Linked DNA regions of Homo sapiens. The protein of the gene in region 5 purifies or fractionates together with the protein of the main gene of each other region. This does not show direct contact. Each region holds a gene or a part of one and is shown on either strand. Other genes may lie near its edges. The genes, in order: NKAP, PIP4K2A, LTV1, MACROH2A1, RIOK2, NSRP1 and MRPS33.

The links.
Region 1: the proteins of RIOK2 (region 5) and NKAP purify together in Homo sapiens (affinity purification with mass spectrometry, with the first as the bait; one large-scale study listed by BioGRID). This does not show direct contact.
Region 2: the proteins of RIOK2 (region 5) and PIP4K2A purify together in Homo sapiens (affinity purification with mass spectrometry, with the first as the bait; one large-scale study listed by BioGRID). This does not show direct contact.
Region 3: the proteins of RIOK2 (region 5) and LTV1 purify together in Homo sapiens (affinity purification with mass spectrometry; one large-scale study listed by BioGRID and IntAct). This does not show direct contact.
Region 4: the proteins of RIOK2 (region 5) and MACROH2A1 purify together in Homo sapiens (affinity purification with mass spectrometry; one large-scale study listed by BioGRID and IntAct). This does not show direct contact.
Region 6: the proteins of RIOK2 (region 5) and NSRP1 purify together in Homo sapiens (affinity purification with mass spectrometry; one large-scale study listed by BioGRID and IntAct). This does not show direct contact.
Region 7: the proteins of RIOK2 (region 5) and MRPS33 fractionate together in Homo sapiens (co-fractionation; one large-scale study listed by BioGRID). This does not show direct contact.

Annotation. Positions count from the first base shown.
Region 1 is NC_000023.11:119,933,752-119,937,251, forward strand, and holds part of NKAP (NF-kappa-B-activating protein), read right to left. Parts: intron 2,932-3,500; coding exon 2,861-2,931; intron 2,681-2,860; coding exon 2,546-2,680; intron 807-2,545; coding exon 743-806; intron 1-742. UniProt on the Homo sapiens protein: Acts as a transcriptional repressor. Plays a role as a transcriptional corepressor of the Notch-mediated signaling required for T-cell development. Also involved in the TNF and IL-1 induced NF-kappa-B activation.
Region 2 is NC_000010.11:22,610,079-22,613,578, reverse strand, and holds part of PIP4K2A (phosphatidylinositol 5-phosphate 4-kinase type-2 alpha), read left to right. Parts: intron 1-3,500. UniProt on the Homo sapiens protein: Catalyzes the phosphorylation of phosphatidylinositol 5-phosphate (PtdIns5P) on the fourth hydroxyl of the myo-inositol ring, to form phosphatidylinositol 4,5-bisphosphate (PtdIns(4,5)P2). Has both ATP- and GTP-dependent kinase activities.
Region 3 is NC_000006.12:143,856,838-143,860,337, forward strand, and holds part of LTV1 (protein LTV1 homolog), read left to right. Parts: intron 1-465; coding exon 466-607; exon of another isoform or gene 608-744; coding exon of another isoform or gene 745-746; intron 747-914; coding exon 915-1,170; intron 1,171-3,500. UniProt on the Homo sapiens protein: Essential for ribosome biogenesis.
Region 4 is NC_000005.10:135,343,732-135,347,231, forward strand, and holds part of MACROH2A1 (core histone macro-H2A.1), read right to left. Parts: intron 2,327-3,500; coding exon 2,237-2,326; intron 950-2,236; exon of another isoform or gene 1-949. UniProt on the Homo sapiens protein: Variant histone H2A which replaces conventional H2A in a subset of nucleosomes where it represses transcription. Nucleosomes wrap and compact DNA into chromatin, limiting DNA accessibility to the cellular machineries which require DNA as a template.
Region 5 is NC_000005.10:97,169,748-97,173,247, reverse strand, and holds part of RIOK2 (serine/threonine-protein kinase RIO2), read left to right. Parts: coding exon 1-73; intron 74-1,850; coding exon 1,851-2,042; intron 2,043-3,500. UniProt on the Homo sapiens protein: Serine/threonine-protein kinase involved in the final steps of cytoplasmic maturation of the 40S ribosomal subunit. Involved in export of the 40S pre-ribosome particles (pre-40S) from the nucleus to the cytoplasm.
Region 6 is NC_000017.11:30,182,816-30,186,975, forward strand, and holds the end of NSRP1 (nuclear speckle splicing regulatory protein 1), read left to right. Parts: intron 1-1,799; coding exon 1,800-2,859; 3' UTR 2,860-3,660; downstream 3,661-4,160. UniProt on the Homo sapiens protein: RNA-binding protein that mediates pre-mRNA alternative splicing regulation.
Region 7 is NC_000007.14:141,008,453-141,011,952, reverse strand, and holds part of MRPS33 (small ribosomal subunit protein mS33), read left to right. Parts: intron 1-1,292; 5' UTR 1,293-1,319; coding exon 1,320-1,534; intron 1,535-3,500.

The DNA.
Region 1 (3,500 bases), on a different chromosome or scaffold from region 5:
CAAGCGATCCTCCTGCCTGGCCTCCCAAAGTGCTGAGATTACAGATATGTGCCACTGTGCCTGGCCAGTTTTTTGTTTTGTTTTGTTTTAAAGAATGCCTATCTTTGTGAACCCGGGAGGCGGAGCTTGCAGTGAGCCGAGATCGCGCCACTGCACTCCAGCCTGGGCGACAGAGCGAGACTTCATCTCAAAAAAAACAAAACAAAACAAAAAGAATGCCTATCTTTTAGAGAAAGGTACTGAATTGCTTATGGATGGAATGATATCTGAGATTGGGTCCAAAATAAATGATGGATGGCAGATACTGCCCATGAGTTGATAATTATTTAGACTGCATGACAGGTGCAGGAAGGATCATTATACTATTTTATGTAATTTTATATGCATTTGAAATTTTCTGGCCGGGTGCAGTGGCTCACTCCTGTAATCCCAGCACTTTGGGAGGCCAAGGTGGGAGGATCACTTGAGGTCAGGAGTTCGAAACCAGCCTGGCCAACATGGTGAAGCCCCATCTCTACTAAAAACACAAAAATTAGCCAGGCATGGTGGTGGGTGCCTATAATCCCAGCTACTCGGGAGGTTGGGACATGAGAATCGCTTGAACCTGGGAGGCGGAGGTTGTAGTTAGCTGACATCGAACCACTGCACTCTGTTGCCTGACAGAGTGAGACTCTGTCTCAAAAAAAAAAAAAAAAAAAAAAAAAGAAAAGAAATTTTCCATAATAAAACTTAAAAAACTGACGATCTGTGTTTCTTCTTCTTTTCCTTTTTCTTGGCTTTCTTTGCTCTCCTTTTGTTATCTTCATCTGCAAATTAAAGCACATTACAATTAAGAAAAAAATTTTTTAACTCTAAAACCGTAGTACTTTTGAGTAGGTAACTATCCTATTGCTGTCCCATTTATTGTTACAAAGAAATTACCTCATTGAAACATTTATTGCTATTTGTCACGAACTGTAGGGAGGTACTATGAACATAGAAATTAAAGTCACTAGGTTTTGATGATATAGGGTATTATTATTAATTTTATTGTGTGAGATAGTGTGGTGGCTAATTAGGAAAATGCCTCTTTTTACGGGATGCATACAGAAATATTTAGGGTGGAAGTGTGATGATATTTGTAATTAACTTTGACTATCTCAGTGAAAAACCCATATTTGAAGCAAATATGTAAAAATACCAACAACTGCCAAATCTAGGTGATTAAGTATATGGTATTAATTATACTATTCTCTTCGCTTTTCTGAATATTTAAATATTTTTGTGATAAAAAGGGAAAGAAAACTATGTGTGTGTTGGAGAGGGGAGAGAGAATCCTTTCCTGGAGCTCAGTCTAATGGAGGAGACAGATAGGTAAAGAGATCAATACAATCTGGAATGATAGAGGGAAGCTTGGGGAACCTGGACACACAGAGGAGTCTCAAAATCAGACTGATTTGAGGAGGGTGGCTGAGGAATGGTTGATCAGGAAAGGTGACTCTTAAAGTAGTTCTTTGATTACAAAAGTAATGCATGCCCATTGGTGCAATGAGTAAACCAAGCTGGATGGAGGGAGAGACTGGCATTGTAGGCAGAGGGCCTCTCTACCAAGTAACAAGAGAAAGAACATGGAATACTGAGGAGACAGAAAGTAGTTTTCAGATTACAGAGGATGTTGCAAGAGAGTGTAACAGGGTATATGTGATTAGAGAGAAATGAGTCAGGGTCTGAACTTTACCCTGAAGGCTATGGAGTGCTATTGAAGGATTTTAAGTAGGTATTTGGTGTATAGGGTATTATTACTAATTTTATTGTATGAGATAGTGTTGTAGTTAAGTATAAAAATGCCTCTTTTTAAGTGTTGCATACAGAAATATTTGAAAGTTCTGTCTTCGAGCACTGAGGAAGAGAAGTGACAGGGAGGGCCAGGAAACTTCGGCGATATCAGAGGAAGGTGAATCTTTGTGTAATGTGTTAACCTCAGAGGAGGCACCTTCTGGTCAATCATCAGCCAGGAGAGAGTACAAAAAGGAGACTCTTTGTGATGCACTACCCCAGATAGGGTGCCTTCCACAAATAGGCAGCCAGCATGAAGTAGGCACTTTATGGCATACCTTTTTGAAAACTGTAGAGGTGCTCATTGGGCATGAGAATTAAACAAAAGAGCCCTTCCACTGGGCCGATGCAGCCCTGTAAGGCTTACTTTGGTACAGCCCAACCCCCTGACTTGGTCTGGTGCCATGTGCCTTGTACACTTTGCACAACCAATCCCAATCCGGAGTCAGATTGCTTAGGTTTGAATCCAAACTGTGTGACCTTAGGGATAGTACTTATAACCTGCTCTGTCTCCATTTCCTCATCTATAAGATGTACCCTACAGTTATTGTATGGATTAAATGGCAATAATAAATATAAAGCACTTATTGGGGTACCTGGCACAAGGTTAGCAAGTGTTCAAAAACTCTTCAGTATTATTATTGTTTTCAGGAACCTTCTTCTAAAATAAGTTTTAAGAAGTAAAACTAGTTTTGAAGCAAGGCTTGCAGAATGCTGTTGGCGTTCTTACCACTGGAGTCTGTTTCAGAATCAGAGTCACTGTCGCTATCTTCAGAATACTTCTTATGTTTTCTTTTCGATGATTTTTTCTTTCTCCTTTTCTTGGACCTTTCTTTTGAACGGCTAGACTTCTTCTTTTTTTCTTCTAAGAAAGTACAAATTAAAAAATTATATTCTAAAAAACTATTTCTGAACATCAAAAGAAACAGACGATGGGCAATTTGAGTAAAAGCAAAGTCTAATGTTCAACTATTTACAAACTGATTTTTTTAAATCTCTCAATAAAATAGCTTGTATTTTAAAAATACCCTTTTTTTAAAAATACCTTCTGAAGTAGAAGCTGAAGTAGTGCTTTTCTTTGGCTCTTCATCCTCCACTGGTGTATGTTCATCAGAACTGAATTTAAATAAAATGGTTATAAGAATTAGGAAAGTGATGAGATATGGACCATGGAGTGTAAAGATATGAACTCCAAATTTTTCAGTAACAGCATCGATTGTCCAAGAACCATTAAAAGCAAGCATTGGAGATCCTAAGGCAGAACTTGGGAATCAAAAAAACCAAAACAACAACAAAGCAAGCACTGAACTACTTTCATAAACGTGCAGTTCAAGGGTCTACCATCTTTGTAATAATAAAATAACTTATCATTTGCATAACACTTTAGAGTTTACATAGTACTATTTAAACAAAGCAGCATGGAGGATTTATATTTTCACAAGAAACCACAGGGAAAAAGTAGAGAAACAGGAACCATAGGAAAGATTAAAGAAACTGGGTATAAGAAGGCTGAAGAAAGACTTTATAATTTTATTTTAAGCACGTAAAAGACAAATGGTAAAGCAGCAACTGTTCTGTCTCCTCAGAGCAAAAACCTAACAAACTACAGTCTAAAGAGATGTTGTTCTGTTGCAGAGAATTCTGAAAATGAGTATTATTCAAATTCTACAATAGTTTAGAAAAGG
Region 2 (3,500 bases), on a different chromosome or scaffold from region 5:
CACTCTTAGCAGGTGGCCATGGCCCTAATCCCCAGAGAAAATAGGAGCCAGTGGTCGGGAGCCCCATCTTCCCTCCATCAGTTCTGCTCCCTCCCCATGACACCTATCTCTTTTCCCTCCTGTGAACAGGAAAGTCGCTTCCCTCCTCAGAGCCTCTCCTTCCTGCATGCCTGAATCCCATCCCCTCCCACTTTCTCGAGAAGTGCTACGGAATGTCCCTTCTCTGTCAGGTCCTCCCTCTGTCCCTCATCCCTCTTCATCTCGCTCCTGTCCTTCCCTGCCAGGCTCCTTAGAAATCAGCCCTGTGCAGTGCCAGCATTTCCTTAACTCAACTTAGTCTGGGTTCCATTGCTACACTCCACCGAAACAACTCTGCCAAGGTTGCCAAGGACCTCCTGTGCCGTTCAATCTGGCTGACATTTCCCAGTCCCTGCCTTCTCAAAAGCATCATGATCATCCCATAGCATGTTTGAACCCCCTTTTCCCTTCACTCCCATTGGGTGGCCCTGTGCTTTTTCACTTCCTGCCTCGATGGCAGTTTTCCCCTTTCTCATCCTCTTCTCCAGGCTTGGAAACATTCCCGTTCTTGAAGACTGCTTCTCCGCCTTCCTCCCCATCACACCGGCCCCTCTCCAGGTTACCTCATCCACTCCTCTGGGGAGCTAATGTCTGATGCACAGATACACACATTTTTATCTCTTGCCCCTGCTGCCCCTGGGAACTTCAGACCCACCTGTCCACGGCCTACCTGACATTGACACTTAGATGTCCCAAGAGCGCATGAAGTTTAACAAGCTCAAAACTGAACTCTTCTCTTAAGATGCATTGTGCCAGTCGTTGGACCCACCAGCTTCCCCCGCATGCATGCAGCATTCCCTCCATCTTTCCCTACATTTCTAGTCTGTCATCATCAAGCCCCATAGATTTCAGCACTTCAGCATGCCGGAGTCTCTCTGCTTCTTTCGTTTCTGCTGCCGCCTCCGCCCTCTGCTGAGCTGCTCTCCTCTGTCTGGTGCAATTCTACAGCAGCCGCTTCCCGGTGCTCCTGGGCCTGTTGTTCATCCCTTTCATGCCACGCACCTTGTCTATTTCTGCACTGTTTTCCCATTAACAGTGTCCCCTCCTCTCTAGGACTCGCCTTCTTCCTGGAAGCCCTGTCCACCTGCCCTCTCCTTTCTCCACGAGCCATTGCTGCCCAGGGAAGCCTCACATGCCTCCCCCATCTGGCCTGGGCCTTTTCCATACTTGCTCGTAGCCCATTGTGCTTCTCCCTCCTGACTCTGTCATTGTTAGAGTTCAACACTTGGGGCAGTTCTTCAGTTAATGTGTCTGCCCCTCTGGACCATAAGCCCCAAGAGGACAAAGACTGGTGTCCGAGCTGTGCCCAGCACAGAGTGGACTCTTAAAGGTTGTGCTGACGCGAGGATGGGTGGGGAAGGAAAATCAATAAGGAAAATTCTCAGTTTACTCATTCCATGTTGGCTGAAGTTTTCATATTTTCTCCACAAAACATGTTCCAGAGCAGGTACCATAAAGCAAAAGGATGCAGAAAGTTTCTGGTTTCCTGTTTCCTGTCTGAGAAGACTCTCTTAAGTGATACTGATTTAAGCAGCCTGAGGAGGCATCAAAGCTTTGGAGGATCTGCTGAACACATCACGCGCATTTAAATAATCAGTGTCTGATCCCACCTCCACGTTGGGTTTCGCTTTCTCTTGTTCCACAAGATATCGAAGTGCTGATTGAGTTGGCATCCAGCTTCATTCGCATTGTGTTTATTATCACAAGACTTGGATTTCCATTATGATTTTCTTTTTCTGTTATTTTTCAAACTTTGATATTCCACTGATAGCATAAGGATACATAAACTTTAATTTTTCATAGATATACTCTGGGAATGACTTAGTATCATAAGATGCTTGAGTAAAGTGAACTGGAGAAGCTATATGACGTTAGATTCCTGTTTTTGTTCAGTGGGTTTGAGAAGCTAGCTGTCAGCTGTCACTATCATTCCTCTGTTGTGTTTGCCTTTTCTCTCTGGCCACCATTCCTTTCTTCTCTTTGCATTTGGCCTTCTTTAGTTTAACTACAGCGTATCTAGGTATGCTTTGAGTATTCTTACTTATATATTGCTTTGAGTATTCTGCTTTTTTTTGTTTTTTTTTTGTTGTTGTTGTTTGTTTTTTGTTTAACAGACATGGATCCACTCTGTCACCCAGGCTGGAGTGCAGTGGTACAATCACAGCTCACTGCAGCCTTGAAATCCTGGATACAAGTGATCTTCCTTCATCAGCCTCCTAAGTAGCTGGGACTACAGGTGCACACCACCACGCCCAGCTAACTTTTGTTATTTTTTTATTTGTTAGAGACGAATTCTGTTGCCTAGGCTGGTCTCAAAGTCCTGGGCTCAAGCAGTCCTCCTGCCTCAGCCTCCCAAATTGCTGGGATTACATATATGAGCTGCTGTGCCCAACTGTATCTACAGATTTATAACGTGCATTAATTGTGGAAAATTCTGAATCATTATTTTTTCAAATATAATCATCTTTTGTTCATCTTCTATTTCTGTATAATTTCTCACAGCTTAAAAAATTCTATATCTGATCATCTTAGTAACTAAAGTCTTGAAAATATTAATTAGTCGTTGCTGTCTCTGTGAGCTCATGTTTGATTGATCTTCATCTGTGGGAAGCCTGGAGGCCTGGCAGGGGTTGCTCTCCTCCGGAGATCATTTACATTTACTTCCACCAGGTGTTGGGGCCACTTTCAAAGGCTTCCTTCAAGGATCTCAGGTTAACGTTGAAGCCTTTGTTGAGCTCCCAGCTTTCGTTTGGCCCAAGTAAGTGTTGAAACTGGCATTTGTCCTCGGAGTCCCTCCTTTCAGGCTTGCTTAATGGTCCCCACACTCCCTGTGGATTAAACTCACTTTGGGGGAAGAAAGGTGTCTTGGAGATTGCCTCTACTGTCTGTGAACCCAGCAATGTGATTAAAAAAAACAAATAGCTCTATCAAGCAGCTCATTCTTTTGTTGTTTGCTTGTTTTGTTTTTGTAACTGAGAATCCTTCAGCGTACCTGCCTTCTATCCTACTGGAAGCATAAATCTTTGACATGGTTTTTATTGCTAGCAACAAGGAAAGTCAACATGCAAAAATAGTTAACGAAGAGAAAGTTCAGGTTTTTCAAAATTGTGTCCAAAGCTGTCCCTTTCATTCACTGGAACTTGATCTTACCCTTTGTCCTTTGGAAACACATCTTTGCTTTTGTTCTTGACTCATGTCCAACCCACCTCCTTCTCTTGTAGTCCTGGGACCACGTGTCTTCTTCCTTCCCTGAATGGAGGTTCTTCTTTTGGTAAATTCATGCCCCACCCCAATCTTTATTTTTAAACTTAGTTCCTGTAAGGGAAGTAAAGAGCACACAGATGAGTTCAATATATAAATCACGTCCATTAATCCAACAAATATTTACGTGAAAAATTTAAAAGCTTTCTTTCTCAGATAAC
Region 3 (3,500 bases), on a different chromosome or scaffold from region 5:
AACCAGAGCTCTCCTCTATGAGGTGTCTATTGACCCCTGATGGGAGGTGTCTCCTAGGCAGGAGGCACAGGGGTCAGGGACCCACTTGAGGAGGCAGTCTGTCCCTTAGCAGAGCTTGAGCACTGTGCCGGGAGATCCGCTGCTCTCTTCAGAGCCGGCAGGCAGGAACGTTTGAGTCTGCTGAAGCTGTGCCCACAGCCGCCCCTTCCCCCAGGTGCTCTGTCCCAGGAAGATGGGAGTTTTATTTATAAGGTCCTGACTGGGGCTGAGGCAGCATTTTGTTTCCTTTTTTTGTCTTGGAGTGTTCATTCTTTATTCTTCACTAGACTGAACTTAGTTCTTAATCGTTCTTTTATCCTCAATATATTAATAGACTCTTGCTATCATAGGTCCTTATATTGTGAGTTAAGTGAATGAATTGTTGCTATCTTGGGAATTACTGCTTAATTTTTGTTTTCCTTCTAGGACCTCGACTGGATTTTGATCCTGACATTGTTGCAGCTCTTGATGATGATTTTGACTTTGATGATCCAGATAATCTGCTTGAGGATGACTTTATTCTTCAGGCCAATAAGGCAACAGGAGAGGAAGAGGGAATGGATATACAGTATGTGTGGTTTGTTTCAAAGCAGAGATGATGACCTAAGTGTTACTGCTTCAGTGGGATGGTAACCATAGAACGTTACAGTTGGAAGAGACCTTCAAGAGCATTTAATCTGAGACTTCTGTATTTTAGAGCAGAAAATGTGAGATTCATTGCTTTTCCTACCAAACCAGATTGATCAAACACCCTCACTCTTCCTGCCTAGACAAGAACCCTTCCTGAAATACCTTCCAATTTTACTTGTGTAAAGTGGTTTTGTTCTGTTACTTTTTAAGTTGTTTTGGTAGGTAATTTATGACCTTTACTTTAGGAAATCTGAGAATGAAGATGACAGCGAGTGGGAAGATGTGGATGATGAGAAGGGAGATAGCAATGATGACTATGACTCTGCAGGCCTATTGTCAGATGAAGACTGTATGTCTGTGCCCGGAAAAACTCACAGAGCTATAGCAGATCACTTGTTCTGGAGTGAGGAAACAAAGAGTCGCTTCACGGAGTATTCGATGACTTCCTCAGTCATGAGGAGAAATGAACAGCTGACCCTACATGATGAGAGGTTTGAGAAGGTAAGGTCCCCACATAAGGGATGCTTTAGTACTATCTTATGTTAAATTTTTTTTTTTAATACCTGTCAGCTTTAGCCCAGGTTGAAGTGCTCACCAACCACAAAGTCAATCATAGGAAGTTTACAACTATCCAGCTATAGGTTCGTGTAGCCAGCATAAAGCAGAAGGGTATCAGTGCAGTACAGGAGCACAAAGACTGCAAAGGGAGCATAGAACTGTGCAGAAGAAGAGTAATTGGTTAGGAGGATGTGACTTTTCCAATTTACATCACACGCTTACACCAGGAGGTGGCTCAAATGATGCCTCATTCAACCTGAATGGGTAACCAAAAGTAGCTGTAATAGTTTTATTCTCACTAACTGTGGTAGGACAACTCACTTGAGTTTCTATTTGGCCCTTAAAACCCCCAGAAGTGGCCCTTAAACCCTCACCATCTCTAATGTTGTGCTTCTTTATTATGTATGTCATATATGGATTTGTCTCAGATTAGAATGTGAATCCCCCAAGGGCAGAGAGTTTTTTATATTTTGCTCACGATACATCTGAAAGCCTAAAATGGTGTCTTGGCATGTAGTAGAAGTTTAAAGTGTTCCATAAATGATAAATGAATGAAGGAATAGTTTCCTTCAAGGTGACTCTAAAGATAGAAGCAGTCCACTCAAGGACCTTGACGAAGCCGAGCGGGTTGAGGTTGATCTGGAAACTGGAACATCCTCTGGCCAAGTCAGCTGATCCGCCCGCGAGCTAAGTAGATGTTAGGCGCCTTGCTGTGTGCCTTGTTTTTTTTTGTTATTTTTCTTTTTTTATTTTTTAAAAAGAGAGATTGGGACCCAAAGCTAAAACTTTTGAGTGTTGAAAACAGCGTATCTCTTTATTAAAACAGAGCATAAAAGCACCTTAGTTATTGTCGTTTTCCCTTTACATATTCTATGAGGCCAGTCACCCTAGTTTTGATTCTGGAAAGAACGTGTGTAGGTCAAAAGGAGTTGGCTGATCAAACGTTCTTATTTTCCCCCTTGAATTCTGACATCCTGATTCTGAATTTCTCCAACAGTAATCCATAAGATGCTATATTTCTGAAGTATTGGCCTGATTGAGCACATCAAAATTCCATTTCTTTCCGTTTCTCATCTGGTGTTTTCAGACATAACTAACACTGAGGAATAGAATGGAAGTAGAGTATAAGACACTTTTGAAAGCTTGTATTTTCATATACTCTATTTGGTTCTGTTGTAACAGATTAGCTCCAGGGTTTATAATCCCAACCTATAGACTGTTTATACAGGTTTTTAATCCCACCTATCCTGTTGTTTGTTCTGTAGCACATAACACCTCCTAACATCATCTCTAATGTTGTGCTTTATTATGTATGTTATATATAGATTTGTCTCAGATTAGAATGTGAATTCCCCAAGGGCAGAGAGTTCTTTGTATTTTGCTCACGGATACATCCAAAAGCCTAAAATGGTGTCTTGGCATGTAATAGAAGTTTAAAGTGTTCCATAAATGATAAATGAATGAAGGAATAGTTGCCATCCAGGTGAATCTAAAATAAAGGCTGTTACCTTGCTACCTTCTCACCTAATACTATTTTCCCTCTTCTCTTGAGGGAGAAACAAACTGTTGCTACAAATCTCACTCTTCAGGAGATATATCCCCCCCATTTACTCTTTGTCAAAGCTTAACAGTGTCAACACCATTTGCATAATATAGTAATTATTGTCTAAACAAGAACAAATATATACATTAGTAGGTGAATTTTCAGTTGCACAATCTTTTAGTTTGCATAACTAAGGAATATGAAAATATCTTTAGTCTAGGCGTAGTGTCTCGTGCCTATAATCTCAGAACTGTGGGAGGCCGAAGCAGATGGATCACTTGAGCCTAGGAGTTTGAGACTGTCTTGGGCAGTGCAGACCCTGTTTCTATTTAAAAAAATAAATAAAATGGCCTGGTATGGTGGCATGTGCCTGTGGTCCCAGCTGCTTGAGAGGCTGAGGTGGGAAGATTGCTTGAGCCTGAGAGTTTGAGGCTGCAGTGAACTATGATCACGCCACTGTACTCCAGGCTGGGAGACAGTGAGATACTTAAAAAAAAGAAAAAGTATCTTCAAAAATGTTCTGACGTAATCTGTGCTGCCTAGCATTTTGTTCTCCAAGCTGAGTGGAATAATGCCTTTCATTTACATGTTAAATGGAAGCCTATTTTTAGGCTAAATGTAAGTCTTAAAGTACTGAGCAGAAATATCTTCCACATCCTATTGTTGCATTAAATCCCTACTGATATTTTAATGGTAATTGTGATAGTACCTGAATAACTATTGTGTAAGA
Region 4 (3,500 bases), about 38 Mb from region 5:
TCCATCAAAACTCAACTGAACGCAAACTCAACGTGTCAGAACATTTGCAGCCTCAAAATAATTGTTTTGGGTTTCCAACCCTTCTTCTTCAAGTCGACTGGTGTGCTAATTATCGACTTGCACACCAATATGATGTATTTGTCTCTACTATGATGTATTCTCTAAATCTCCCAAACCCAATTCAGGACAAAGCTACTAGGAAAGCAACTGCTTTAAATGATCTGCTAAGCAACCTGACCAGCATCTCCACTCTGCCATTGTCTTCTCCCTGCTGAGGATGGCCTCACTGTGTGAATAACGGATCCTGTTTATTTGTGGCAGAATTAGATTAGTTTTTAAGGAACTGTGTTTTTCTTTTCCTAGAAGAGGGGCCCCTTTCTAGCTATACATCTCCACCAAAGACTTGCCTTTCCCTTGCCAGATCTAAGGACACAGGCCTGGGGTCTGCCACAAACTGCAAAGTACCATGTCTCCCAGAGCATGTTCCAGAACCCCTGTCCACAGATGCTCTGCAAAGAAGGTTTCCAGGGCACTGGGTTTAGCTGCATGCTACGCTTCTATACAAGAGCACACCAGAGTCTCCACACCACTGCTAAAGTAAAACATCCAAACTTTTTGTATTTGGTTGGCTATTTCTGAAACTTTTTTTTTTTTTAAGGAATATCTGTCCAAGGGGTATGGTTTGTTATGGTCGTGTCATAGATACTGGAGAAGGAGCGATTTGTGGGTAGTGTCTCATGGTACAGTGGAAACAGCTCAGTCACAGGGTGTGAATTTGAGTCCTGGCTCTGCTTTGTGACTGGGCTTGAGAACTCTGGGCTGACCTATAAAAACCTGACATTGGGGGTTGAATTAAACCAGTGGGTTTGTCCCCATGAGAAGTCATGGCTAAACTATGCATAGAAAACGACTGGAAAGAAACATTAACAGTGACTATCTTTGCACAGTGGAACAGGAGTATGTTTTATTCACCTCTTTATACTTTCAAAAATATTTTAAAGCAGTTTCTAAAATAGCCCTTAAAATCAAGAACAAAAGTGTTATTGAAACAAGCAAAAATATCTTGAACCATGCTATACCTAATGGGTTTGCATCTGCTGTGGCTGAGGTTTCCCCAGCAGAGTTTGGTACATGGCAGCACCAGGCTGCCTACCAGGCCTTGTGCCAAGGGCTACCAGCAGGACTCAAGCTGGAACCCCGATGGGAAAGGACCCACAGGCTGGTCAAACAGGTGTTTTAAAGGGCCTGGGGAAAGGCCAGCTGCCCCTGGCTAGGTAGTTAAAACTGTGTATGCCTTCCCTTGTACAATGTGGGACTTTGGTGGAACTGCCTGGGAGAACTTCATAATTACTACCCTGTATGTCATGCCCCTTGCAGGTAAAACAGAAGTGGCAGAGCAGAGGTCAAAGGCACAGATCAGCAAAGGGAATCCTACTGGATCCTGAGACTAGCCTGGAAGGGGTGTCATTTGTCACTGGGAATAGAGGTGCACGGCCTGGTGGACCCTCCGAGAGAGCTTAAGATTCATTTTTAAAACAGAGGATTTAAAAGACACAATAGGCATTGGAATCGGGTAGTAAGAAGAGAAAACCAGAGCCCCAAGTGAGGAAGTGGGTGATCTGTCCTCACACAGTTGGTGGGGGAGCTGGGCCTCCCCACTGACTGGACTCTCAGGTCCTTAGGAGGTGCTCTGTCCTGCACACCCCAAATGACCACCTAAATTCAGGCCTGAAGCAGTAAGAAGTACCCTGCCTCCAGGTCTTAGCAATAATTCTCCCCACATCAGATGCCAAGTCGTTTTCTTCCCCTTATACCAGGGAAGGTGTAATTGGCAAATGAGAAATGTGTATTTATATGTTTCCTCTTACACACACAGATGGCTGAAGATTTTTAATTTGTATCTCTCACCAGCAGTTTTGCAGATGGCTCAGTATCACTCACTCTCAGCTCTTAGATGTACCAAACTCAGCTCCTATAATTTCTTAAAATTTGTGATCTAGACATCAAACATATAGGAGCTATTTTAAGTAATAAAAAAAAATGCAAAGGTGATTTTCCCAGACAACCTGCATGTGGTGAAACTCTAAGATGTAAAGCTACAGGCTGTCCTTGGCCTCCATCTTGAAGATGCGGCTGTGCTGCCACACACCTCTGAATTCTAAGCCCTCTCACAAAATGGCTTTCCTAATACTGCATGTGTCACAACCAGATAAGCACGGTGGCTTTCCCACCTCACCTCCAGCTACTTCCAAGGGCCCGTTCTTTTTCCGGAGTTCCAGGACAGCTTCCACAAACTCCTTGCCACCTTTCTTCTCCAGCGTGTTTCCTAGACAAGGACAGGGTGGGGTCAGGTTGCCATTCTGTGTCTCCGGCACACACAGACACTTAGCATGTCAGGTGATTACATACTTCAAATGATCTATTAAATTTCCATCAGGCTGCAAAACAGGAACTAAGCCTTGGCTAAGTTAATAAAGTAAAATTGAGAAGGGCTTTGTCATCACCAGTTACTACCCTCAAATTGCTGCTTCATCTGGCTGTCTCTGCTGCCCCTTATTTGGGTCTGACTCAGGGTGATCATGGATGTGCCAGAGATGTGAAAGAGACAGGACATGCTTGTTTTTTGCAAACATGCTTGTCCTGGATGCTTTTCATTGGCATGAGATACTAGCTGGTACTGGTTTCCAAGACTAATGCCTGCCTTAGGTTTTCTTCTCTGTCTCTGGGGAGAACCCCCAAGTAAGGAGGTTTCAGCAGCATACAATGCTCCCATCAATAAGCCAGCTCTCCTCCTGGCAGCAGGCCTAGAAGGAAGTGTTCATACCTGGCCACCTTTGGACCAGCATTATTACCATGCTTAGTTCCTGTTTTGCAGCTTTGGTGTCATATGCAAATACAAAATAAAAATGGCCTCAGACGGTATTTTCTTAATTACACTAATGATTCAGAATTGTTTTCAGTAAAGAAGGGCAACATCAGAAGCAGAGCTTAAAGATTAATCTGTGTTCTATAAAAAGCTTGGAAAGGAGGATGTCTAACTGCTCAGGACCAGATTTTTCACAAAAGCCAATGGAGATTGGGAGCAATGTGTTTTCTTCAATTAGGGCACTTGCTAAGTAATCAGTTCCTGCTGTGAAAACCAAGTTCCCAAACAAGATCACCAACACCTATGAGAACTCTGGGTTGATGCTCATGTGGGATAGCAAGTGGCAATCAAAGTTAGCAACAAGATCAGCCTTTCAAGTTTGGCCAGAATGGGGTCTGAGTCTTCCTTAAGCTCTGATTCCTCAGTTTTGCACATTTTAAAGTACTTTTCCTCACAAGAGGACAAAATACTCCCCTTAAGATTCACATCTGTCTTGGAAAATTCCAGGTGCACCTGGCACAATTCTGGTATGGGACGGTCAAGGTGCATCGGAATGCACCAGCCCAAATTCTCTTTGGAGTCACCCTGCGATGACCAGGGTTAATTATCTTAGTGAAACTTGCCTCCTTTGAAT
Region 5 (3,500 bases):
AATTTCCAGTTCCAAAGCCAATTGATTACAATCGTCATGCAGTGGTCATGGAACTCATAAATGGTTATCCACTGTAAGTATTCATTATTCTTAAAGCCATGAATCCTGATAAATGAATTTAAGTTTCAGGGTTTTTAATAAAATTTTTTTTAGTTAATGAAATATTGCCTCTGGGAGGTTAAAATTTATTTAAAGGAATAGACTCAAAGACAAATTAAAAACCCAGTTTCATTCTGACAATATGAACTTTGTAATCTCTGTGATTCATTCATTCATTCAATATTAAGAGACTGTTAGGTGCCAGGAACTTTTAATCTCAGCAGTGAACAAAACAAAGTCCCTGCCCTCATGGAATTTACATTCTGATGGAAGGAGATGTGCAATAAATAACTAAAGGAAATGTATATCAATTGTTAGTAAGTACTATGGATAAAAAAAAGCAGAGTAAGGGAGATAGGAAGTACTAACGGGACAGGAGACTACTGTTTTATGTAGGGTGGTCAAGAAAAGTCTCACTAATAAGGTGAAACCTCATCAAATTTTGATTCAGATTAGCAGCTATTGGAGTGGGAGTATTTTGAGCAGAGAAGAGATGTGATCTCATCAATCAGTGATCTCAGTGTTTTCAGAGGGTCACTCTGCTTGCTGAATTAATAGACTCTGGGGAGACAAAGAATTAGGAAGACAAGTTAAGAGGCTATTACAATAATCTAGGCAAGAAATGGTTGTAATTCTGATTACAGTGATAGTTGTGAAGGTGATGAAAAGTGGTCAGATTCTGAATGTGTTCTGCAGGTTGAACCAACATGATTTGAGATTGGATATGGATGTGAAGGAAGGGATGAGTCAATGGTGACACCAAGGTTTTTCCCCTGAGTAGCAAATTAACTGGAAGGAGAAATCTACCATGTATAGAAACAGGAAAGCTACAGGAACAGCATTTTGGAGTTGGAGGGTGGGACAGAATCAGAGATTCCATTTTGGACATGCTAAGTTTGAGATGCCTGGGAGTTAGAGAAGTCTACATTAAAATCAGTGTATATGTGGTATTTAAACCATTAACCTAGATGAGATCACCAAGAATGAGTCTAAATAAGAGAAAATAAAAGGTCATAGGATTGACCTTTGAGGAACTCCAGAATTTAGAGGTCAAGGAAAAAGATGAAGTACAAATAGAAAAGACTAAGAAGGTATGATCTGTGAGGAAGGAAGAACACCTGGAGAGAATGGTGTCCCAAGAGTTAAGTGAAGAAAATGTTCAAAGAGGTCAACTGACAGACCACATATGATGAGGACTAAGAATTGACCTTTGGATTTAGCAACATTGAAGTCATTGTAGTCTCAACAAGGGTGATCTTGGAAGCACTTTGGCCTCCCAAAGTGCTAGGATTACAGGGGTGAGCCATTGCGCCTGGCCCGTACATGCTATTATTGATTCTGGATGTGGGTGTGTTTGTTTAGAATATAATCATTTTTTCATAATTTTTCAATTTTGTGATACTATTATTTAGGTCACTCACTGGTTTGAAGTGGCTAGTGTTAACGTTATAAAAAGCCTGTTTGAAATGGTATGAGAGAGTAGGAGGAAACAAATTGGAAAAGCACATGTAGACAAGTTTGGCTGTAAAGATCAAAGAAAGGTAGTAGTAGAAAAGAGATACAGAATTGAAGCAGTGTGGCTATTTTTTTAATAGATGGGAGATATTATATCTGTGTGCTGATGGGAATGAGAAGAAAGCTGCTGGGGATACACAGCATGGAAATAATATATATGTTCACATGCATACATACTTTCGTTAAAACCGTAAATGAACACAAGTAACCTATTTTCATGCTTAAAATACTTTCAGATGTCAGATACACCATGTTGAAGATCCTGCATCAGTATATGATGAAGCTATGGAACTAATTGTCAAACTTGCAAATCATGGGCTGATTCATGGAGATTTTAATGAATTTAATCTCATTTTGGATGAAAGTGACCATATCACCATGATTGATTTTCCACAGATGGTTTCAACTTCTCATCCCAATGCTGAGTGGTACGTACTTGCTATTTTTTTATTTTTATTTTATTTTATTTTTTTGGAGACGGAGTTTTGCTTGTTGCCCAAGCTGGAGTGCAATGGCGCGATCTCGGCTCACTGCAACTTCCACCTCCCGGGTTCAAGCAATGCTCCTGCCTCAGCCTCCCGAGGAGCTGGGATAACAGACATGTGCCACCACACCTGGCTAATTTTTTGTATTTTTTTTTTTAGTAGAGATGGGGTTTCTCCATGTTGGTCAGGCTGGTCTTGAACTCCTGACCTCAGGTGATCCACCCGCCTCGGCCTCCCAAAGTGCTGGGATTACAGGGGTGAGCCATTGCGCCCGGCCCTTACATGCTATTATTGATTCTGGATGTGGGTGTGTTTGTTTAGAATATAATCATTTTTTCATAATTTTTCAATTTTGTGATACTATTATTTAGGTCAGTCACTGGTTTGAAGTGGCTAGTGTTAACGTTATAAAAATTTGGTTTTTTATTAAAGTATAACTACTAGAGTTTTCCCCATAAGAATTTGAATTTCTCTGTTGTAAATTGACAGACGTTCAAAAGTCAAATTTTCTTAGCCATGGAACCCTTTGTTCAAACAGACTTTTAGATGGAAGACCAATTGTTAAAACAGGTAAAAGTAGGGAGTGTAGTGGGGAACTCTAGAACCACTTTTGTCTTTCCCTTTTTCTTGCTGTTCCATGATTGCCTCCAAGAGAGATTCACCAAGTATAACTCAGTAATCTCGATGATCTGAATAAAAGTTGTGGTTTTGGACTGGACTCAGTTGTCAAACCAGTGATAATTACCTCTTGTCACTTTTAGCTTTATTTATTAGAAAAAAAATCACATAAAACTTTATCTCTGACACAGTGCAGAATCATGATATACTGCGATAATCATATTCTTCACATTACTTATTTAAACCAAGCCAGCCAAGTCATGAAACAGGACCTTATCCTTTATTTGCTTGAGGTTTATGATTCAATTGAGTGTAACTAAGGATTTTTTTTTCTTTCTGTTCCAAGCTTTATGAGAAACTTTTTTCCTAAACTAACAACTAGTATCACTTATATAATAGAGTATATTAATTCTTCCAGAGATTGAGCTTGAAGTAGTTTTGTTAAGTGAAGCGTCTCTTCATCCTGGTTTCCAGTAGAAAATGTCTATACTTATGCTACAGAAAGAAATGTCATTTGAAAATAAATTTTTAAAACGTTTTCAACAAAATAATACTAAAAGATTAATGCCTGGCACTGGGGTGGTCAGTACTCTTTGGATGATGACTAATCATGATTTTTATTAATAAGGAGTAACATAGTCACACAGTAAAGGAACATCTAGGAGCCTCCAGAGTGTGACAGATTATGACATTCTAGGTTTAGGCTGCATCGTTCTATGGAGAGACATTGTGATTTAATTTCAATTTTTATGAACCAGTTCTGGGGCCAAGGAGCTGTGCTAA
Region 6 (4,160 bases), on a different chromosome or scaffold from region 5:
CCCAGCTACTTGGGAGGCTGAGGCAGGAGAATGGCGTGAACACAGGAGGCGGAGGTTGCAGTGAGCTGAGATTGCGCCACTGCACTCCAGCTTGGGTGACAGTGCAAGACTCTGTCTCAAAAAATAATAATAATAAATAAATAATAAAATTAAGTAAATAAAATTTAAAGTTTTGATCACAGCGGCCACATTTCATATACTCAGTTGCCATATTTGGCTGGTGGTTGCCATACTGGGGACAGCTCACATATGAACATTACCATTTCTTGAGGCATTTCTATTAATGCTGGTCTAGAAGGTAAAGGATTAGAGGATTTTTGAATAAAGTTATAAGGTATTATAGGAATGGTGAGATGATTATGCCATAATTATGTAGCTGAAGGTAAAAGAGTCTGTCCTAAGCAAAAAAAAAAAAATTTTTTTTAACAGGAATGTTCTGGGTAGATCTGAGTCTGTGTTGCTAAGGAAGGGAAGAGGTAGGAGAATAGAATTAAGGTGAGGAGAGGAAGTTTATGCCCCACTCCCTCCCTACGCTGCTAGGCTTTGATTATAAAATTGGTGAGAAGTATGAACCTAAGAAAATGTATTTGAAGATTCAGGTTTTGAATGGAAATTATATTACGTTATATCTTTGTATTAGAGTTTCATCTGGAATATTTATTAGGCTGCCATGAAACTCTGTAATGTCGTTGACATAGTTGTACTTCTTAGAGTCTAATAATCGAATTCCTAACTGTTAGTGGGTCCTTTAGCCAAGATAGTTCTGCCAGTAATTCCTGGAGAACCAAAGTTGTTGCACCATTAGTGTGATTAGTAAGTGATTAGTAAGAATCACTGAGTGGTTCTTATTTACATTATACTCATACTATAAAGTTAACTGTACTTGCCAGCTGGAACAATGAAGGTAATATAATTTTAGTATTGTTGATTCTAATGGACAAATTAATATATTTCCATTTTGTTGTGATAGGTGCCAAGGAGTGAATCAGGATACACTCATGAGAGAGAGTAAATATTTAGGATTATATTTGCCACTATTTTGCTGTGCAAAGATTATCTTCATGTATTTCTAGGACTATTTTTATAATTTTTTAAAAAGAAAAAGGCCAAGCATGGTGGCTCACACCTGTAATCCCCGCACTTTGGGAGGCCAGGGTGGTTGGATCACCTGAGGTCAAGAGTTTGAGACCAGCTTGGCCAACATGGCAAAACCCTGTCTCTACTAAAAATACAAAAATTAGCTGGGCATGGTGGTGCAGGCCTGTAATCCCAACTACTCGGGAAGCTAAGGTGAGAGGATCACTTGAGCCTGGGAGGCAGAGGTTGCAGTGAACCGAGATTGTGCCACTGCACTCCAGCCTGGGTAACAGAATGTCTCAAAATAAATAAATAAGAAAGGAAACAACAAATCCAACAGTCACAACTTAAGCTTCATGTTGTGAAAATAGAACTTAGATTCAGAACATTTATTACTTTTCCCAATTATTCTTTGTCTTAGGCTTACCAAAAAATGAAGACCTGTACAGACCCTTGCCTGTAGGTTCTAGTAGTATAGTAGACAAGGGCTAATTTTCTCTTTTCACTTCTACAAATATTGAAAATATTCTGAATGGTATGAATTTGAAAATACTAGTTTGCATAGACATCAGGACCTTTTTGCATTTGGATAATCAGACAGTATATATCACTATAGGTGTATTGATTTGAGTATTGATAAAAATTATATGAACCCTTCATTTGCTTATTACAACTGATAATGTGGCATTTTTTTCTGCCCTTTTTTGTTTTTTGTTTCTAAGATCTGGTATAAAGGAAGAAAAATCAAGGGGCTTCTCCAATGAAGTAAGTTCAAAAAACAGAATACCACAAGAGAAATGCATTCTTCAAACTGATGTGAAAGTAGAGGAAAACCCAGATGCAGACAGTGACTTCGATGCTAAGAGCAGTGCGGATGATGAAATAGAAGAAACTAGAGTGAACTGCAGAAGGGAAAAGGTCATAGAGACCCCTGAGAATGACTTCAAGCACCACAGGAGTCAAAACCACTCTCGGTCACCTAGTGAAGAAAGAGGGCACAGTACCAGGCACCACACGAAAGGATCACGAACGTCGAGAGGACATGAGAAAAGGGAAGATCAGCACCAGCAGAAGCAATCCAGAGACCAAGAGAACCATTACACTGACCGTGATTACCGGAAAGAAAGGGATTCTCATAGGCACAGAGAGGCCAGTCATAGAGATTCCCATTGGAAGAGGCATGAACAGGAAGATAAACCAAGGGCGAGGGACCAAAGAGAAAGAAGTGACAGAGTATGGAAAAGGGAGAAAGATAGGGAGAAATATTCCCAAAGAGAACAAGAAAGAGATAGACAACAAAATGATCAGAACCGACCCAGTGAGAAAGGAGAGAAGGAAGAGAAAAGCAAAGCAAAGGAAGAGCATATGAAAGTAAGGAAGGAAAGATATGAAAATAATGATAAATACAGAGATAGAGAAAAACGAGAGGTAGGTGTTCAGTCTTCAGAAAGAAATCAAGACAGAAAGGAAAGCAGCCCAAATTCTAGGGCAAAGGATAAATTTCTTGACCAAGAAAGATCCAACAAAATGAGAAACATGGCAAAGGACAAAGAAAGAAACCAAGAGAAACCCTCTAATTCTGAATCATCACTGGGAGCAAAACACAGACTCACAGAGGAAGGGCAAGAGAAGGGTAAAGAACAAGAGAGACCACCTGAGGCAGTGAGCAAGTTTGCAAAGCGGAACAATGAAGAAACTGTAATGTCAGCTAGAGACAGGTACTTGGCCAGGCAGATGGCGCGGGTTAATGCAAAGACCTATATTGAGAAAGAAGATGATTGATGGCTACCCCAAGAGAAAGATTTAAGGAAGCACAGAAAACTGTAATTCCTGGAACCTGCTGCGTAAAACCATAAAGGAGTGTGTTACCAGTAGTTTGGAGGGCATTTTTAAATTTATTTTCAAAATTTTAAGTTAAAAGTCAGTCTTACAGCTTGGATGTTTGGATGTGGATGTTTGGCTGAATTTATATATAGTGTGTACTCATCAATACCACATTCTTTGTTGTATTCAAGAACCGTTAAGAGTGTGCTAATTCCCTGTAGGTACATAATGAGGAAAATTTGCTCCACTACAACCATTAAAAAATAATTTTGGCCAGATACGGTAGCTCGTGCCTGTAATACCAACATTTTGGGAGGCCAAGGCAGAAGGATATTGAGGCTAGGCATTCAAGACCAGCCTAGGCAGGATAATAAGACCTTGTCTCTATTTAAAAAACAAAAAGCCTAGCATGGTAGTCCATGCCTGTAGTCCCAGCTGTTCGAGAGGCTGAGGCAAGAAGATCACTTGAGCCTAGGAATTTGATGTTACAGTGAGGTATGATCATGCCACTGCACTCCAACCTGGGCAACAGAATGAGACCCTGTCTCTAAAAAATTTTTTTTAAATAAATAATTTAACTCTTCTAATAATGTTTTGTTGCAGGAAATGTATTTCAGATAAAATATGGATTTGAAAAACAGAAAATATACTTTATGTTCTGAAATTTGTATTTAAGTATAAAATGTGAATCATCTTGTCTAAATAGCTTACAGCATAGTTGGCTTAAATGAAAATAAAATGATATGCTTATACATTTTATTTATGCATTTATTTTAAAATAATTTTACTCATGTCACAATTCATCTTTTCGCTTTTAGTAGAAATTAATTTGTAATTCTGAAACCTTGACAAGTTAGTAAATTGGTTATATATGTAAATCACTTTTAGTTAAAGGTGAAGCTGTGGAGACATTAGCCTAAATGAAATTAGCTAAAGATCTAGGTGGCCTGTTTCTAAACATGTCTTGTTTCACCTACTCTGAAAAAGATAGTGCAGTTTATTACAAGTTCCACTTGTGTATAAAAATAAAACTAGTATCTTTCTTCTGAGTCTTTGAAACTCAGGAGAAATAATTATACACTGTAAATATTTTATTTATGGGGAAAGATGAATGCTGTGGAGAAAATAGTTCTCTACTAGGTCTTCCCATTAAGAAAATGCTGTTCATATATCTCACAATACTCTACCTAAAGAGCACACTTTCTTATTTTTAGAAGGATAAACTTGGTTTAATAAGAATGCTGACTAGATGAAATATA
Region 7 (3,500 bases), on a different chromosome or scaffold from region 5:
TGGTCTTGAAGTCCTGACCTCAAGCGATCCTCCCACCTCAGCCTCTCAAAGTACTGGGATTATAGGCATGAGCTACCATGCCCAGCCTCCTCTGTTAATGGATCTTGAAACAGGCATTAAAACTTCCTTAATTTAAACACGGTTTGTTTTCTTACAAGAACTATTTTGAAATTCACTTGGCACCATTTTTATGTAGGAGGGTTTTTGGTACATTTCTCCCATTGGTTTTTCAAAGTTTATGCCTTTTTCCTGCTTGAATATCAGCACCTTTTCATCTCAGCTGAACTGTTTCCCAGGATAGTCTCTGAGTCAGCAAAGATTCTCATCTCACTACTAAAATTTCTCATAAATTGGCATATTCTGCCAACAATAACCCCTACGTCTGGTCTAAACTGAGTTGAGATAGTTATTCCACCAGCAGCTTTCTTGATTTTTATGTATCCCCTGTATAGTTTTTTATGTCTGTTAGCTGTAATTCGTGCATATCACGGATATCATTCTTATACCCATTTCAGTGTTGTATGTCTCTGAAGAAAAAGCTACTGTTTCCAGCTGATAAGAACTTAGGTAGTTTGCATTAAAGCAGAATATATAAGATGGAGGATACAGCAAGTAACCTTACAATTCATACGTGCCTTCTATTTAGTAAGAAAATGGATCTTTTGAGCTATTGGATTTATTTTTATAGGGCTACTGTCTGTTTTTCCCAAATGGCTCTCAGTCTCTAGGCAAAATTCAGTTCAGTAACCTAGAAGCCAAATGACCTCATAACTCATTAGCAGCTCTCAGAGCCTTCTGGAGCCCTTGAGGAGAACAGTGTTCAAAGGACTGATAGTAAAGACAACATAATTATGTCTCTGCCATGATTACACCTTTTGATGGCAAGCAGTCAGCATATTAATGCTGCAGATTGCTTAGGTGGGTGTTTTCTGAAGGTATAATGATGCTGGATTAGGATAACTTGTTTCCCTGTCTTCTTCATCCCCAGCCTACAAATAGGTAAACTGACTGTCAGTAAATAACCTGGTGAATCACAAAATAGTTGGTTGCAAAGGAGGCAATACAGCAAGGAAGTAATAGCATGTAAACACGAAGTGCAAAAATCGCAGCTGTAAAGCATGGAAAGGAAATAGCCATTTGGACTGTGGATACTTCTCCACTCCAAGGCATATCCTGCCAACACTGCACTGATCCATGAGTGGCTTGCTGTGTTTGCATTTTCTAACTTATTCATTAGCTAATCTTGGAATTTCTTACCCTAACCTGTTTAACTTTCTTCTCATTTTCAATAGGAACTCTAACTCCTTGCCACTCAAGAAATGTCCTCCCTTTCAGAATATGCCTTCCGCATGTCTCGTCTCAGTGCCCGGCTATTTGGTGAAGTCACCAGGCCTACTAATTCCAAGTCTATGAAAGTGGTGAAACTGTTTAGTGAACTGCCCTTGGCCAAGAAGAAGGAGACTTATGATTGGTATCCAAATCACCACACTTACGCTGAACTCATGCAGACGCTCCGATTTCTTGGACTCTACAGGTGATGACAAACACAAAGAGGGACCTATGAGAGACTTTTTTTCAGTAGATCAGAAAAGGAAAAAAATTAGCCTTTCTATCCTTGTAGTTTTGTTCTTATAATAGAGCCCAGGTAGTTCAAAAGGTACAGTTGGCAGGAGAAAGTCTTCTTTCAAAATACCCATAATGGAGAGACCAAAAAAAAAAAGGAAATTCATGCTTGTTGGAAGATATATTTTAATTATGTCTACAACATGACTAATGTTGAATAGATACTGAGCTGTAGAGAGGTGTTTAATCATTTGTTAATCTAAGAGCACTCTAAAAAGGATGCCAAGAGGCCAGGCGCAGTGGCTCACGCTTGTAATCCCAGCACTTTGGGAGGCCGAGGCAGGCAGATCACGAGGTCAAGAAATCAAGACCATCCTGGCCAACTTGGTGAAACTCTGTCTCTACTAAAAATACAAAAATTAGCTGGGCATGGTGGTGCACGCCTGTAGTCCCAGCTACTCGGGAGGCTAAGGCAGGAGAATTGCTTGAATCTGGGAGGCGGAGGTTGCAGTGAGCCGAGATCGCGCCACTGCACTCCAGCCTGGCAACAGAGTGAGACTCCATCTCGAGAAAAAAAAAAAAAAAACAATGCAGAGAAAAACTGGTCCAAGTACTGAGGAAGAAAGCCTCAGAAACACCAAGGTTGCCAGGGCAGTGGGCTCTTGTTATCAGATGAACAGAGTCCCTGACCGACACCTGATCTGCTGCTTAACTGGTATGTGGGAGCCTTCTTTCTCTTCTGGTGGCATTTTTGTTGACATTTCTTCCTACTGTCTTCTGGCATTTTTATTTTGTACCCTTTTTGACATATTAATTTGGTCTAGATAAGCTGTAGTTTGCCTTTAAGGATAATACGTAAATCACACAGGTTCTTAACACCATGTGTTTGTATGTGTGTGTATGTCTAGGGAGTAGGTGCTTAGAACTGTGTGCATCTCTGAAAAAAAAAAAAAGATCAGGCCAGGCACAATGGCTCAGGCCTATAATCCCAGTGCTTTGGGAGGCCGAGGCAGACAGATCATCTGAGGTCAGGAGTTTGAGACCAGCCTGGCCAACATGGTGAAACCCCGTCTCTACTAAAAATACAAAAATTAGCTGGGCGTGGTGGCACACGCCTGTAATTCCAGCTACTTGGGAGGCTGAGGCAAGAGAATTGCTTGAACCCAGGAGATGGAGGTTGCAGTGAGTCAAGATCATGCCACTGTACTCCAGCCTGGGTGACAAAGCAAGACTCTATCTCAAAAAAAAAAAAAAATCAAATACCTGTGTGATCTTTCTCATTAAATTATTTTTTTGGCCAGGTATGATAGCTCACAGCTGTAATCCCAGCGCTTTGAGAGGCCAAGGCGGGCAGACCACTTGAGGTCAGGAATTCAAGACCAGCCTGGCCAACATGGTGAAACCCCGTCTCTACTAAAAATACAAAAATTAGCTGGGTGTGGTAGCACATGCCTGTAATCCCAGCTACTTGGGAGGCTGAGGCAGGAGAATCGCTTGAACTCAGGAGGAAGAGGTTACAGTGAGCCGAGATCGTGCCACTGCACTCCAGCAACAGAGCGAGATTCGGTCTCAAAAAAAAAAAAAAAAATTATTTTTTTAATTACCAAACTAATACATGCCCATTACAAAAGAATTCAAATAGTACATAATTGTATAAAGTTAAAATACCTACCATCTTTTTAAAAATTTAACAAGTTGTAATTGGAGTTGTCTTTGGGCAACAATACTAAAATTATTGGGAACCATTTATTCTAATACAATAGAATTAATAGTACAGCACAACATTCATTGCAGATCACTAAAGATTGGTACATTCACTATCCAGTGGATATTTCTTACGTACCTTCCACGTGCAGGCACTTAAGATGGCACTAGGGGAACAGCAGTGAACATAATAGATGTGCTTGGTTAACATTAGAGGTTACAATCTATGACAT